Linked DNA regions of Homo sapiens: region 2 is reported to be linked to region 1. The links are microRNA targets in miRTarBase. Many come from high-throughput screens and were not tested one by one. Region 1 holds a microRNA gene; the other region holds the end of a gene's coding sequence.

Region 1 (3,413 bases):
TAGTAATGTTGTTGGTTTTTATTAATGTTATTTTTATAGCAATGCTAATATTATGAGCTAAAAGTTTCTGAGCATCTGCTGGGTGCCAAAAATTCTTATAAATGCTTTACATGCATTAGCTCCTAACAACACTTTGAAGTAATTCTTATTGTCCTTACTTGACATATACAGGAATAAAAACCTGACCATTAGACCGAGCGTGGTGGCTCACGCCTGTAATCCCAACACTTTGGGAGGCCGAGGCAGGCGGATCACCTGAGGTCAGGAGTTTGAGACCAGCCTGGCCACCATGGTGAGACCCCGTCTCTACTAAAAACACACAAAAAATTAGCCGGGCGTGGTGGTGGGTACTTGTAATCTCAGCTACCCGGGAGGCTAATGCAGGAGAATCGCTTGAACCCAGGAGGCGGAGGTTGCAGTGAGCCAAGATTGCGCCATTGCACTCCAGCCTGGGCAACAAGAGCAAAACTCTTTCAAATAAACAAACAAAACCTAAGCATTTGAGGGGTTTGGCCTGGGCAGTGGAGCTTGTGAGCTATATGAGCTGGAATCTGAGTCAAGGCTGGGCTGGTGAAAGGAGTTCACTCAAGTTCCCAAGGTATTCTGTCCTCCAGGACTCTGAATCACCTGGGAGGAGAAGGAATTGTGGCGGGCCTAACACCTTTTCTTTCCCAAACACCAAGAGCAGGTTCTTTCTGTTACATCCATTGAGGTCACATTCTTGAAGTGCATTTTGAGGAAGTCATTATTTTCGCTACAGCAGGGACTGATGTATCAGTCTATTAGAATTCAGAAAAAAGTAAGCAAACAAAAAACGTGTTGGAATTATTCTCTTCTAGCATTTTGAAATGTACAATGGTTAATGTTAACTATAGCCACCATGATGTATTGAAGACCAGGTCTTATTCTTTTTATCTAACTGTACATTTGTACCCATTAACCTAATGCTCATAGCATCAAGAAAAGATCAATATTTAAGGTGACAAATATCCCAATTATGCTGATTTGATTATATGAATGTGTTGAATTATCATATGTACTCCCAAAATATGCACATCTAAGATGTATCAATAAAAATAAAGACAAAAATTAAAGCTTTTACAGTAGAAAAAAGGTTTTAGAGAAATTATGATTACTTGATTCACCTAAACTGACAGTCTTGCTTGGAATGAATTACTGCTTTTTGTAACATAGTTTTAGAAGAGAGATTCACATTTAATGTTACTTTGTGCTAAGCACTGTAATCCATGCCTGGGTGCTCACAGCGCTCCTCTGGGACCAGGCATCACCATCTCCTCTGTAAAAGGAAGGTCAGCCTGTTGCCAAGACCACAGGATAAACGGCTTGGCTGATTTAGGAAACCCAGTTGGTCTTATGACAAAACATGCGCATTTGCCCTTCACCAGGTGATTTTTCTGTAGGGTTATCTTCAACAGTCCGACAAAGCTGTGTTCCACCAGCTCAGGCAGGCTGTGACCAGGATCACCAGCCATGTGGCATCAGGAAGAAGGGGCTGTGTGGCCAGGCTCAATCTCTGGTCCTGCAGCCTTCTGCCTTTGGCTTTCTGAAGCGAGCTGAACTAGAGATTGGGCCCAGCTCGGCAGCGCAGTTTCAGGAGAGCCAGGATACAAACCATCCCAGTCTCTGTTCCCACAAAGGAGAAGCTAAACCATTTTTTATTTGCCCATTCTAAGTGCTAAGTGATATGCAACTGCTTCACATAAGCCTTCCAGCCTTCCAGCCGACTCTGCTTTCAGGAGATATCCTTATGTCCCTTTTGCATGGCTTAGGAGAGTGAAGCACGTGAGAATTGAACGAGGGGTCAAGGGTCACATAACACATGAGCACGAAACCGGGACTCTCCTGGGGTATCAGACCCCAAAGCCAGTGGTCTGCGCTTGATCTTTGCTAACGTCCGAGAAGCAATAAGTCCAGGGCTCTTGACACATTATTGTGCATTTTACTTTGGGAGGGACTGTGGGTCCACTCTGCTTTTAACAGGAGGAAATTAAATATTTACATTTGATTCCAGTTTGGCCCCATGACTGTCCGGCTTCTTTCCTGTCAAAGGCCCAAATTCCCTGTTTTAAAGTAGAGGGTGAATTTGTGTAATGAGGATGGATCGGGCACGTGTAGAACACACTCTTTCACCTGCAGATTCACACTCCAAACACAAAGAAATACTGGATCATATATGGTATATTTTAAAAGATGCCATAGGCATACTTAAAAAGCACAACAGAATTCTATTTTCTCACGTCAGAGGGCAGAGTCTTATGAGCTATTGAGAGGAAAACTGTATCTTAGGGGTTGAGAGCCTAACGTCTGCTTGGGGGTGTTTGTGGCCCTGGCAGCTGTTGTGTGCAGTGCACATTAGAACTGAGCAGCTTTATAAAGCCAGGAACAAGGGTAGAGTCCCTGTGTCTCTGAATAGAAATTAGCGATGCTTAGCCTTCTGTACCAAGGAATGCATCACAAAAGCTAATGCTGGGACTGGGCCTGGTGTGGGATAGGAGTCACACAGAGGAGTCAGAACGCCAACTGTGGCTGGTGTAAGGGGCCTCCATTCACACTGTCTTTGCTGTTTGGAAAATCTGAGCAAGAATTTAAGGTAAAAGCTGATGTGGAACAGCTTGCAACCCAAAAGTCTCAAGCCCAGCATAAAAATCATTGCTCCAGTGAAGATGCCTGCAGAGCTCAAGGCATTTCTGAGACTCCATGGGAGAATGATTCCTAAGGAAGGTGTGCCCCCAGCACCTGTGGAGACTCATCACCTTGAGGGCAAACAGACTCTGTAAAAGGAGAATTCACCTCTAAGGAGCTGCAGACAATAGAGGGATTAAAATGGGCCTTTGATCATTCAAAAAGCATTTTAAAGGAAAAAATAAAGTAACATAATCCAAATTCCAACAGGAGACTTGAAAAAGAAGGTAATAACAAAATGGAAAATAAAGTCACTGAAATAAAGCAAGTGAGTTGGACTATGAATGTCTCCTGTCCATTAGCTGTGTCCCCGGCTGCAAGGTCCATGGGGACTGTGCCTCCCTTGACCTTGAATCTCAATGCCTTAGCAAAGTGCCTGGTTCTGGGTAGGTTCACAGTACACATGTACCTCCCAAATGGATGGATTGCCAACTTAAATGTTCATAGGAAGGTGCTATTTTCAGGCACTTCAGGTGTGGACATCGGTGTTGTCAGATCTTTTCTGTTCTAGCCAGGCATTGTGGACATCACCTTACTATGTGAGGGAACAAGCTGCATTGGTGGAGAGGAAACCAGCAGGAGCACAATAGTGACCCATTTCTCTTGTCTTATGCACTGCAGTGGAAATAGCCCAGTGTGCATGGTGGATTTTATTATGGTGCCAGTAGAAAGATAGGGGGTTTCCTCTATGAGCTGGCTGACTTACATGA
Region 2 (3,393 bases), not on the chromosome of region 1:
ACCTCTGGGGGTAAGTAGTGGTTGTGTTGCTTTCTTTTGAGGGTAATACTGTTACAGTGAGATACATGTTCTCTTCTCCCAGACTATTCTGTGATTCCTTGCTTCTATAAATGGTACTACCCCTAAACTGTAAAAGTTTGGCTAAAATTCTAGTTCTTTTTTATGCCCCACAGGTATGAACGGGTAGATGAAATTATTTGGGTGAAGACAAATCAACTGCAACGCATCATTCGGACAGGCCGTACAGGTCACTGGTTGAACCATGGGAAGGAACACTGCTTGGTGAGCAGCAGTGGGGCCCAATTCAATAGGTGGAGCACAAAGAAGAATCATTTGATTTCTTACTGAGAAAAAGTTCAAAGGTGTGGTTTCATAAGGTAATCTGTTATCTGTGGTGAGCAGGTTGGTGTCAAAGGAAATCCCCAAGGCTTCAACCAGGGTCTGGATTGTGATGTGATCGTAGCTGAGGTATGTGCTTCCCAGGCCTCCAAAGCTTCCACATTTTTGTTGGTATCAGTTATTCATGTTGGGTGTATTCTCATCCCAGATTTTTCTCATTTAGATCATAAACATAATAGAAAGGGCTAGAATTGCAATCTTGTGTAACTTAAAAAGCAGCTAGTTTTTATTTCCTAGGTTCGTTCCACCAGTCATAAACCAGATGAAATCTATGGCATGATTGAAAGACTATCTCCTGGCACTCGCAAGATTGAGTTATTTGGACGACCACACAATGTGCAACCCAACTGGTAAGGTGACCAGAGAACAGGCTAGTCCTCAAGGGGCTATTATTTATGATTAAGGACAGAACTTAGTAGAGCTTCACATTGTTTTACACTAGTCCATAAATGAGCTTCACAGGATTCATAAGCCACTTAAGCTTGTATTTAAACTGTTTTATGAGATTCTACAAATATTCATTAGAAACTCAACAGGTTCTAGGACCCAAAAGCACTGCTCCCTAGGGTTTCTACTCTCTTCACAACCCAAGGATCTTCCTCAGCCATTCTGTGATGTATTGAATCTGCCCCCTGGTGGTTACGAAGTTATCTATTTAATCTGTCAATAATTACATCTTTCACCCCTTAACAGAGCTTAAAACACATGCTGCTAGCATTTTGCTTATCCAAAGAATACTCCCTGGTAGCAACTCTGTGAAGCAGGCCTGGCTAAGCATTAGTTACTAACCCTCAGATAATACAGATCCAGTCTATTTTAACACCAGAATCTATGCCAATTCTGAACTAGTAATTCTACCATATACTATTCTAATGTTAAGCTCTTTTTAGAATTGGCATATTTGATATGATGATAGGCAGTCTTCATTTGGTATGCATTTTTTAACAATATTAAACCCTCTAATTCCAGGATTTCTGGTTTGCCCCTCCTTTTACACTGTTTCAGGATCACCCTTGGAAACCAACTGGATGGGATCCACCTACTAGACCCAGATGTGGTTGCACGGTTCAAGCAAAGGTACCCAGATGGTATCATCTCTAAACCTAAGAATTTATAGAAGCACTTCCTTACAGAGCTAAGAATCCATAGCCATGGCTCTGTAAGCTAAACCTGAAGAGTGATATTTGTACAATAGCTTTCTTCTTTATTTAAATAAACATTTGTATTGTAGTTGGGATTCTGAAGTCCATTCTGGCTCTGCTACTTAACAGTGTATAATCTTGTGCAACTCATCTCTCAGTATTATATGTGAAATGGGAGTATTACCTCATTGGGTTGCTGTGAAGGTTCAAACTAAATGAGTGCATGGGAAACATTAAAATGATCATTATAGGCTAGGCACAGTGGCTCACACCTGTAATCCGAGCACTTTGGGAAGCCGAGGTAGGAGGGTAACTGTAGCCCAGGAGTTCAAGACTAGACTGGGCAACATAGTGAGACCCCATCTCTACTGCTACCCTCCAAAACCATTAAAAAAACAGGAATGCAGGCTGGGTGCGGTGGCTCATGCCTGTAATCCCAGCACTTTGGGAGGTCAAGGCGGGCGGATCATGAGGTCAGGAGTTCGAGACCAGCCTGGCCAACATGGTGAAACCCTGTCTCTACTAAAAATACCACAAATTAGCTGGGCGTAGTGGCGGGCGCCTGTAATCCTAGCTACTCGGGAGGCTGATGCAGGAGAATCGCTTGAACCCGGGAGGCAGAGGTTTCAGTGAGCTGAGGTCGCACCACTGCACTCCAGCCTGGGTGACAGAGCGAGACTCTGTCTCAAAAAAAAAAAAAAAAAAAAAAAACAAAAAACACACAGAAAACAGGAATGCATAGGATAAAACTATGTACGTAGCTGGTTGAGGAGGAGGTTCTCTAGGACAGCATTCCTGTCTACAAACAGTAAAAATTTGAGTTTTATTTAAAGTTATCACCACTTGGACTATCATGCTGTAAACTTCTGCTTATTCTGTTACAACCAGGTGGCTTCTCTAGTCTGTTTTTCTTTAGATTATGTCTAAGAAATAATGATAGACCTATGGTCTTTTAAAGATAGTTCATCAAACACAAGTGAATACAACTTTAGACTTTGGTGGAACCTCTTACTAATGATGTAGAGTTCCGCCTCTTAGATTCATGAACTGTGATAACTCAGATAAGGATGGTAACTGCAGAAATAATATATATAAAGAGAAATCACTCCTGGGTGATGTCATTTTCCATGTAGCCCAGTATGCCCATGTTGAAAAGTTTTGTTTTCAAAGCAGTGTACTGATGTGATAATGGGGAATAACATTTTTTTATGAGGGAACCCTTTAAAATGGATGCACACAGTGGCATTTTCTCCTAGGCTCAAAGCTGAGTACACTCCCGTAATTTTAATAATATTTTAGGCAAGTCCTATGACAATTATACCAACAAGTTTCTTCAACCCCACCACCACCCCACCATCTCTATGCTTTGCTTGCCCAGACTCCCTTCACCCTTTCCTCTGCTATTACCGCTTATGGTTGAAAGTAAAAAGCATCTCCAGATTACAGCAAATTCAGTGGCCCTGCTCCATAGCCTGGCCTCTGCTGAAGGAAGAAAAGGGGTGAAACATGAACAGCCATCATGGGTTGTGATGAGGCACTACCAGAAGCCCAGCTTGTGTTTCAAAAACAGGCTCTTGGACACTTTCCCAGCAGATAACTCTTCACTGGCTTGGAGAACAGGAAGGACTATTTCACAAACACCACTGTGTTTGAATTTCTAGAGGCTACCCAGGCCAAGAATACATCCCTAAGAGAGAAAAAGACATACACAAACAGAATTATACACAAACTGAAATAGAATTACAGCCTAGATACATTTTTTTTTTTGAGACGGACCTCATGGGTTCACGCCATTCTCCTGCCTTAGCCTCCCGAGTAGCTGGGACTACAGGTGCCCACCACCATGCCCGGC

Evidence for each region. Region 1 holds the annotated microRNA hsa-miR-7158-3p (CUGAACUAGAGAUUGGGCCCA, at 1,575-1,595, shown strand). A microRNA usually pairs through its seed, bases 2 to 8, with sites in the 3' UTR of a target mRNA and lowers its output. Matches are read on the target gene's strand: a 7mer-m8 pairs with bases 2 to 8, a 7mer-A1 pairs with bases 2 to 7 and ends in A, and an 8mer does both.
Region 2: miRTarBase lists TOX4 as a target of hsa-miR-7158-3p. Seed matches in the 3' UTR shown: 7mer-m8 at 1,241-1,247.

Annotation. Positions count from the first base shown.
Region 1 is chr2:5,973,138-5,976,550 of GRCh38, forward strand. It overlaps MIR7158 (microRNA 7158), which reads left to right and starts at 1,525; the gene lies at 1,525-1,595. It overlaps SILC1 (sciatic injury induced lincRNA upregulator of SOX11), which reads left to right. Exons shown (of 2, transcript NR_026832.1): 2 at 1-3,413. RefSeq lists enhancers at 1,092-1,593, 2,473-3,126.
Region 2 is chr14:21,496,381-21,499,773 of GRCh38, reverse strand. It overlaps TOX4 (TOX high mobility group box family member 4), which reads right to left. Exons shown (of 9, transcript NM_014828.4): 9 at 604-3,228. The coding sequence ends at 3,168. It overlaps METTL3 (methyltransferase 3, N6-adenosine-methyltransferase complex catalytic subunit), which reads left to right. Exons shown (of 11, transcript NM_019852.5): 7 at 1-10; 8 at 174-282; 9 at 403-468; 10 at 637-749; 11 at 1,405-1,636. The coding sequence ends at 1,516. Among named protein-coding and RNA genes, the nearest start is that of METTL3, 13 kb to the left of the region's middle. RefSeq lists enhancers at 933-982, 1,013-1,102.